Regions from separate parts of the Homo sapiens genome. Here region 2 is linked to region 1. The links come from fine-mapping of genetic effects on gene expression. A gene starts in region 1. The other region holds a variant in brackets. All regions are shown on one strand. Distances are from middle to middle. Region 1 holds the start of GCN1 (GCN1 activator of EIF2AK4). Region 2 overlaps PXN (paxillin).

Region 1 (2,899 bases):
TTTTTTTTTTTTGAGACAGAGTCCCACTCTTGTTGCTCAGGCTGGAGCGCAGTGGTGCGATCTCAGCTCACTGCAACCTCTGCCTCCCAGGTTCAAGCGATTCTCATGCCTCAGCCTCCTGAGTAGCTGGAATTACAGACATGCCACCATACCCGGTTAATTTTTTGCATTTTTAGTAGAGACGGGGTTTTGCCACGTTGGTCAGACTAGTCTCAAACTCCTGACCTCAACTGATCCACCCGCCTTGGCCTCCCAAAGTGCTGGGATTACAGGGTGAGCCACCACGCCCAGCCAAACAATGAATTTTTTTATTTAATTTAATTTTAACAAACTTAAGCCATGTGGCTGCCATACTGGACATTGCAGCTCTAGAGATTTTTCCCTCAAGTGAGTATCAATGTTAAACATTCAGCATGTATTCCCCTAACCCTCTCATACTAAGCTTTTCTTTCTAGTATTCAGTACAACATAACTTGAACATCAGCCACCTGCATAGGAGTCTCAGTAAATGTCTTTTTGAATGCTTAAGTGGTCATTTTCTGGGCCTACACATAAAAATCAATCCCATCACCCTGGAGACACCAAATCAGCCCAGCTGTCCTTAGACACCTGTTCTTCCCCTGCCTCATGACAATGTCTTTTCACCTTAAAACATAACAACTGGGTGGAGGAAAAGGTTTTCCCAGGTCCTTCCTGAACTACAAGGTACCCATAGGTAACACTCTTCCTGGACAGGACAGTTCTTTTCACTAACCCTGGATCTGATAACAACCAACATATATCAAGCCGTATTTTATCTCACTGAACCTTCACAACAACCTTTTAAGATAAGTATTGTTTTAACTTCATTTTATAGATGAAAAGGCAGACTTGGCGGGGTTAAGTCACTTGTTTGGCATGTCACAGAAATCGACGAGCAGGAACTCAAGCCCAGATCTGTATGAATCCAAAGACTACACTCAAAGTCCCTGCTCATAGTAGGTGCTCAAAGAATATTTGCTGAATACAAAGTTTAAGGAAGACTTGGCGTTGGCCCGGGGCTCACAGCCGGAGGGCTTTGGAGAAAAGAAGTAGAGGCTCGGTAAAGTGAACTTCTGCAACTCTGGGGTCGGGCAAAGGCCCCGCCGAGCTCCAGCTGCTGAAGTCGAGGCGGGAGCCCCGGACTCCTCGAGCCCGCGGTCTGCCTGCGCCGCCCGGGCCGGGCCAAGCCCGCAGCCCTGAGAGTCCAGCCTGAGACGGCCCCGAGACTACGACCTCCACAGCCACCACCTCCAACGCCCCTAAGCCGAGGAGCGAGAGGGGCCCCGCCCGACGGCCACCGTCCGCACCCAGTCCCTGGCCGCGTTGGCCCCGCAGCCGCCCGCCTCACCTGCGTGTCCGCCGCCATCCTGCCGGGGCTGACTCCGGAACCGCTTCCGGAACGCTTCCGGGTCACAGCGTGGCCCACGCGGCAGGGCGAGGCCGGGAGCCAGCGGGGGCAGGGCCCCGGGCTTGGTGCCCCCGGGCAGGACGGCGGCCGCTGCAGCCCGGGCAGCCGGATCACGGGCTTAAAGTTGGCCCGCGCCCGAGCCACAAGGCCTCCTCCCCAGGGCCCGCTCTTCAGCCCCGGGCGCCTCGTGGGAGACTAGCGCTTGTAACGTGGTGAGCCCGCGGTGTAACGCTATGGGCCCGCCTTGCAGCCCCTGACCCACTTCCAGCCCGCAGGGCCAGCCCTACGTGGGCCTTTCCTGAGTGATGACTAAGTTCTTTAGAAAAACAAGTGTTGCTTCCTAGATAGCAGGAACTAAAAACTAGGTAAAAGAGTCGGTGAACTAGTCTTTTGTCCTCAGTTTGTAGTTCAGTTGGCGGATGACTTGTACAGGGTTAGCAAACGTGGCTGGATACGGAGGTCAGGGAAGGTTCAGAACTGAACGAGGCCCCTGCCCTGGGGAAATGCTGGACGCCCCAGGCTGGGAGTTTTGAAGGCCACAGGGCAAGAGGCTACGTGCAGACGTGGCTGCAATTTAGGGAACAGGGTCTCCACAGCTTAGTTGTCAGCCCTGTTAGCAGTGGCTTTCAAACCTTTGACACAGACCTAGTTAGAATGAATATATCATGTTCCAGCAGACAGATCTCTAAGTGAAATACAGGAATCACAACAAAAACACCTATTCTCAGCAGATGCTGCTTTCTCTTTAAATACTGGGGCCAGGCATGGTGGCTCACGCCTGTAATCCCAGCACTTTGGGAGGCTGAGGTGGGTAGATCAACCTGATGTTAGGATTTCCAGACCAGCCTGGTCAACATGACAAAACCTTGTCTCTACTAAAAATACCAAAAAAAAAAAAAAAAAAAAAAAAGGCCGGGTGCGGTGGCTCACCCTTGTATAATTCCAGCGCTTCGGGAGGACAGGGCGGGCAGATCACAAGGTCAGGAGTTCCAGACCAGCCTGGCCAACATAGTGAAACCCCGTCTCTACTAAAAGTACAAAAATTAGCCGAGTGGTGGCACATGCCTGTAGTCCCAGCTACTGGGGAGGCTGAGGTGGGAGAACCGCTTGAACCCGAGAGGCAGAGGTTGCAGTGAGCTGAGACCATACCATTGCACTCCAGTCTGGGTGACAGGACGAGACTGTCTCAACAACAAAAAAATTAGCCCGGTGTGGTGGCAGCCTCCGGTAATTGCAGCTACTTGGGAGGCTGAGGCAGGAGAATCACTTGAACCCAGGAGGCGGAGGTTGCAGTGAGCCAAGTCCAAGCCACTGCACCCCAGTCTCAAATATATTTGAGACTATCTCGAAAATATAAATTGGTTACCACCGAGTTGGAGCACCACCCAGTTTGAAAAACTTTACTCTAGGGGACTGGCCCCAGCATCCACCAGGTGCCTATCTCAGCTGACACTAAACCTACTCCAAGTA
Region 2 (2,899 bases), 28 kb after region 1:
CCAGCTGACCCACGTGGAAGTATGAAGTCAGCAGCTGCTGGTGAGTTCTGTCAATATCAATCCCCAAGGAAACACTGAATCCTCTAAATTAAACATCTCAGGCCTGGCAGGACTGGGGAGGCCCAGCAGGGGAGGGGAAGGGCAGGTACCTCGTGCAAGCCTGGCCCCATGGTTTCCCACAGACACGCTCGTGGGAACTCAGAGGCCCTGGAGGGCGAGAGGGAAGGATGGGAGAAGAGTAGCAAGGGAGGCTTGTGGATTCAGGATCAGAGGCAGAAAGAAAGAGGATGTGTTGAGGACAGCTAGCGTGGGAGATGGGGCTCCAGGGCAAATGACCTCCCAGGCACAGGCTCCCAAGTCCCACATGGCCCAGCAGAGAATGCCCTCCCCCACCCAGAGCAGCCATCAACACAAGGTTCTTTGTCCCAGCGTCCCAGCCTCCTGATCCCCTCGACCTGAGAGGCTGGGAGCACCCAGGGAGGAAGGAATGTCCCAGCTGAGCACTTCTCCAGCTTGTCTGCCTTCACTGGCTACTGCAATCCTCAGGCAGGCTGACCCGGCCCTCCCTCCCCATCTCCTGGCATCACAGCAAGGCCAGGGCATGACAGTGTCCCTGGCTCAGGGGCAAGGCACCCAAACACTGAGATGCCAAGATCCAGCTACCCACACTGAGGTAAGGGAGGAGAAGGATGAGGGAGGGGCGGCAGGGCAGGGAAGATGGAGGGTTCACAGGGCACCTTGAAATCCGACAGCGAAGCCATCAGCTCGTCCAGCTCCCTGGTGGCAGAGGAGGCCGAGATGCGTGTCTGCTGTTGGGTGGAGGTGACGCGCTGCGGGCTGCTCATCTCGCCCTGGTTCACAGTGATGGCAGGGCTGCAGGGTGGGCACAGCATCAGTGGGGAGCCCACAGTCAGCCCCACACTTCCCGGGGATCAGATCGACCTCTCACCTCGGACACTGGGGTCTCACCATCCCCAACCCCAGGGAGGTCCACCAGCTCCCTGTCTCTCCTGGGGACCCATCACTGGGTCAGAAGAAAGGGCAGTTCAATGGCACCAGGAAGTGCCAGGAAGACTCCTCTAGCCCCCAGCCCAAGTGAAAGCTGGCCTGCGAAACAAGCCCAAGCGCCCTGTGTTTCCTCCACAACACTGGACATGGAGGTGAGGCTACTGCAGTAACACGACGGCACTGGTAAGAGCTCGCGTGTTGGGCACTCACCATGTGTGCCACGCACTACACACCAGAAACCATTCCAAGCGCTTTACATGGATTACTGGTTCTCACCCTTACTGAGGTAGGTGGTCTTAT[C/T]CCAGTGATCCCATAAGTTCTTGTCCCATTTTACAGATGGGAAAACTAAGGCTTGAGAGCTGACAGTAACTGTCAGAGCCAAGATGTGAACCCCACTGTGTGGCCCCAAAGCCTGTGCTAAGAGCTGCTAAGCTCCAGGCGCCCTCAGCCTGCACAACGTCTGTCCTTTCTGACTGGCAGTGACTGGCTGAAGGCAGGGATGGTGTCCATGTGACTCACCACTATCCCCCCAGTGCCTGGCAAATGGCAGACACGGGAGGGAGTGGGTGATACCAGGGCTAAGGGGACAGACACTGGACCCGGGGCAGGCTGGGCCAGCCCTTCCCCACCTGGGGAGGGCCCAGTGGGTACTCACACGGGGCTGGGCACGGAGCTCTCCAGTTCATCCAAGAGACTCTCCACACTGGGCCGCACGTCCTCCAGGCCCCGGCCCCCATTCCGCTTAGGCTTCTCTTTCGTCAGGGGCCCAGCTTTGCCTCCCAAGGGGCTGTTAGTCTCTGGGACACCATAGAGGGGGCTCAGGGCCCCAGGAAGCGGGGGGCTTGAGTTGGCCTCATCTTGCAGAGAGGAGAGAAAAAGGCTGCTCAGCCCTTGAGCCCTCCTGGGATCTAGAGGTCAGCAGATGGGCCCTGGGCCCTGGTAGACCCTGCCCCAGGGACCCGGTCCTACCTGCAGGGAAGCCTGGCGGGTTATGCTGTACAGCGTTCAGTTCCAGCAGCAGGCGGTCGAGTTCAGAAAGGTTGCTGCCCAGGGACGTGCTCATTACGGTGGGTGAAGGCTCAGCTGATTTCTGCTTGTTGGGGAAGCTTTGAGAGGCAAAGGAAAGAAGATAGTGAGAGATGCTTTCTGGCCTTGTACTGGCTTGGCAGTTCCCAGATTCCCAAGGAGAACAAGGCAGAGGAGATGCGAAGTCTTCCCCCGCAAGAGGACAGAGGGTAGGGAAGGGATGTGGTAAGAAGAGGGGAGGAGGCCGGGCACAGTGGCTCACGCCTGTAATCCCAGCACTTTGGGAGGCTGAGGCGGGCAGATCATGAGGTCAGGAGATTGAGACCATCCTGGCTAACACGGTGAAACCCCGTCTCTACTAAAAATTAGCCAGGCGTGGTGGTGGGTGCCTGTAGTCCCAGCTACTTGGGAGGCTGAGGCAGGAGAATGGCGTGAACCCAGGAGGCGGAGCTTGCAGTGAGCCGAGATCGCGCGACTGCACTCCAGCCTGGGCGACAGAGTGACAGAGCGAGACCCCGTCTCAAAAAAAAAGAAAAAAAGAAGAGGGGAGGAATGAAGTCTTGCTTCAGTTCCTCAGCTACACGGAGATGCTGTGATAGCCCAGAATGTCCACTGCATGGAGATGGCACTGATGAGGTAGACGGGCCCACCGACAGGCCTTCTGCAGCTTAAACCAGAATAACCCCACAAGGCCCAGTTGCTATGCCTGCTCCCGGGCCTCCGCTGCCTCCCACCCTGGCCAGGTCCCTGAGATTTCTAAGCAGGAGGGAAGGTGCCCTGGGCAGACTGGGGCAGTACCTGTAGACGTGCTCCTCCTCACCCACTCGGGAGCACGGAGAGCCAACACTGTCCTGAGGGTTGGAGA

The links. PIP is the estimated chance that this variant, and not a neighbour inherited with it, causes the effect.
Region 2: its variant is the best candidate, but not a certain one, in a credible set for the expression of GCN1 in liver (GTEx, PIP 0.56).

What each region holds. Positions count from the first base shown.
Region 1 is chr12:120,193,311-120,196,209 of GRCh38, forward strand. It overlaps GCN1 (GCN1 activator of EIF2AK4), which reads right to left and starts at 1,405. Exons shown (of 58, transcript NM_006836.2): 1 at 1,370-1,405. The coding sequence starts at 1,387. RefSeq lists a silencer at 1,113-1,702.
Region 2 is chr12:120,220,886-120,223,784 of GRCh38, forward strand. It overlaps PXN (paxillin), which reads right to left. Exons shown (of 15, transcript NM_001385981.1): 3 at 2,833-2,899; 4 at 1,978-2,114; 5 at 1,664-1,865; 6 at 738-873. LOC124903034 (a long non-coding RNA gene) reads left to right here. Exons shown (of 3, transcript XR_007063487.1): 1 at 1-40; 2 at 430-2,899. Among named protein-coding and RNA genes, the nearest start is that of PXN-AS1, 21 kb to the left of the region's middle. The variant C/T (reference allele first, on the strand shown) is at 1,309.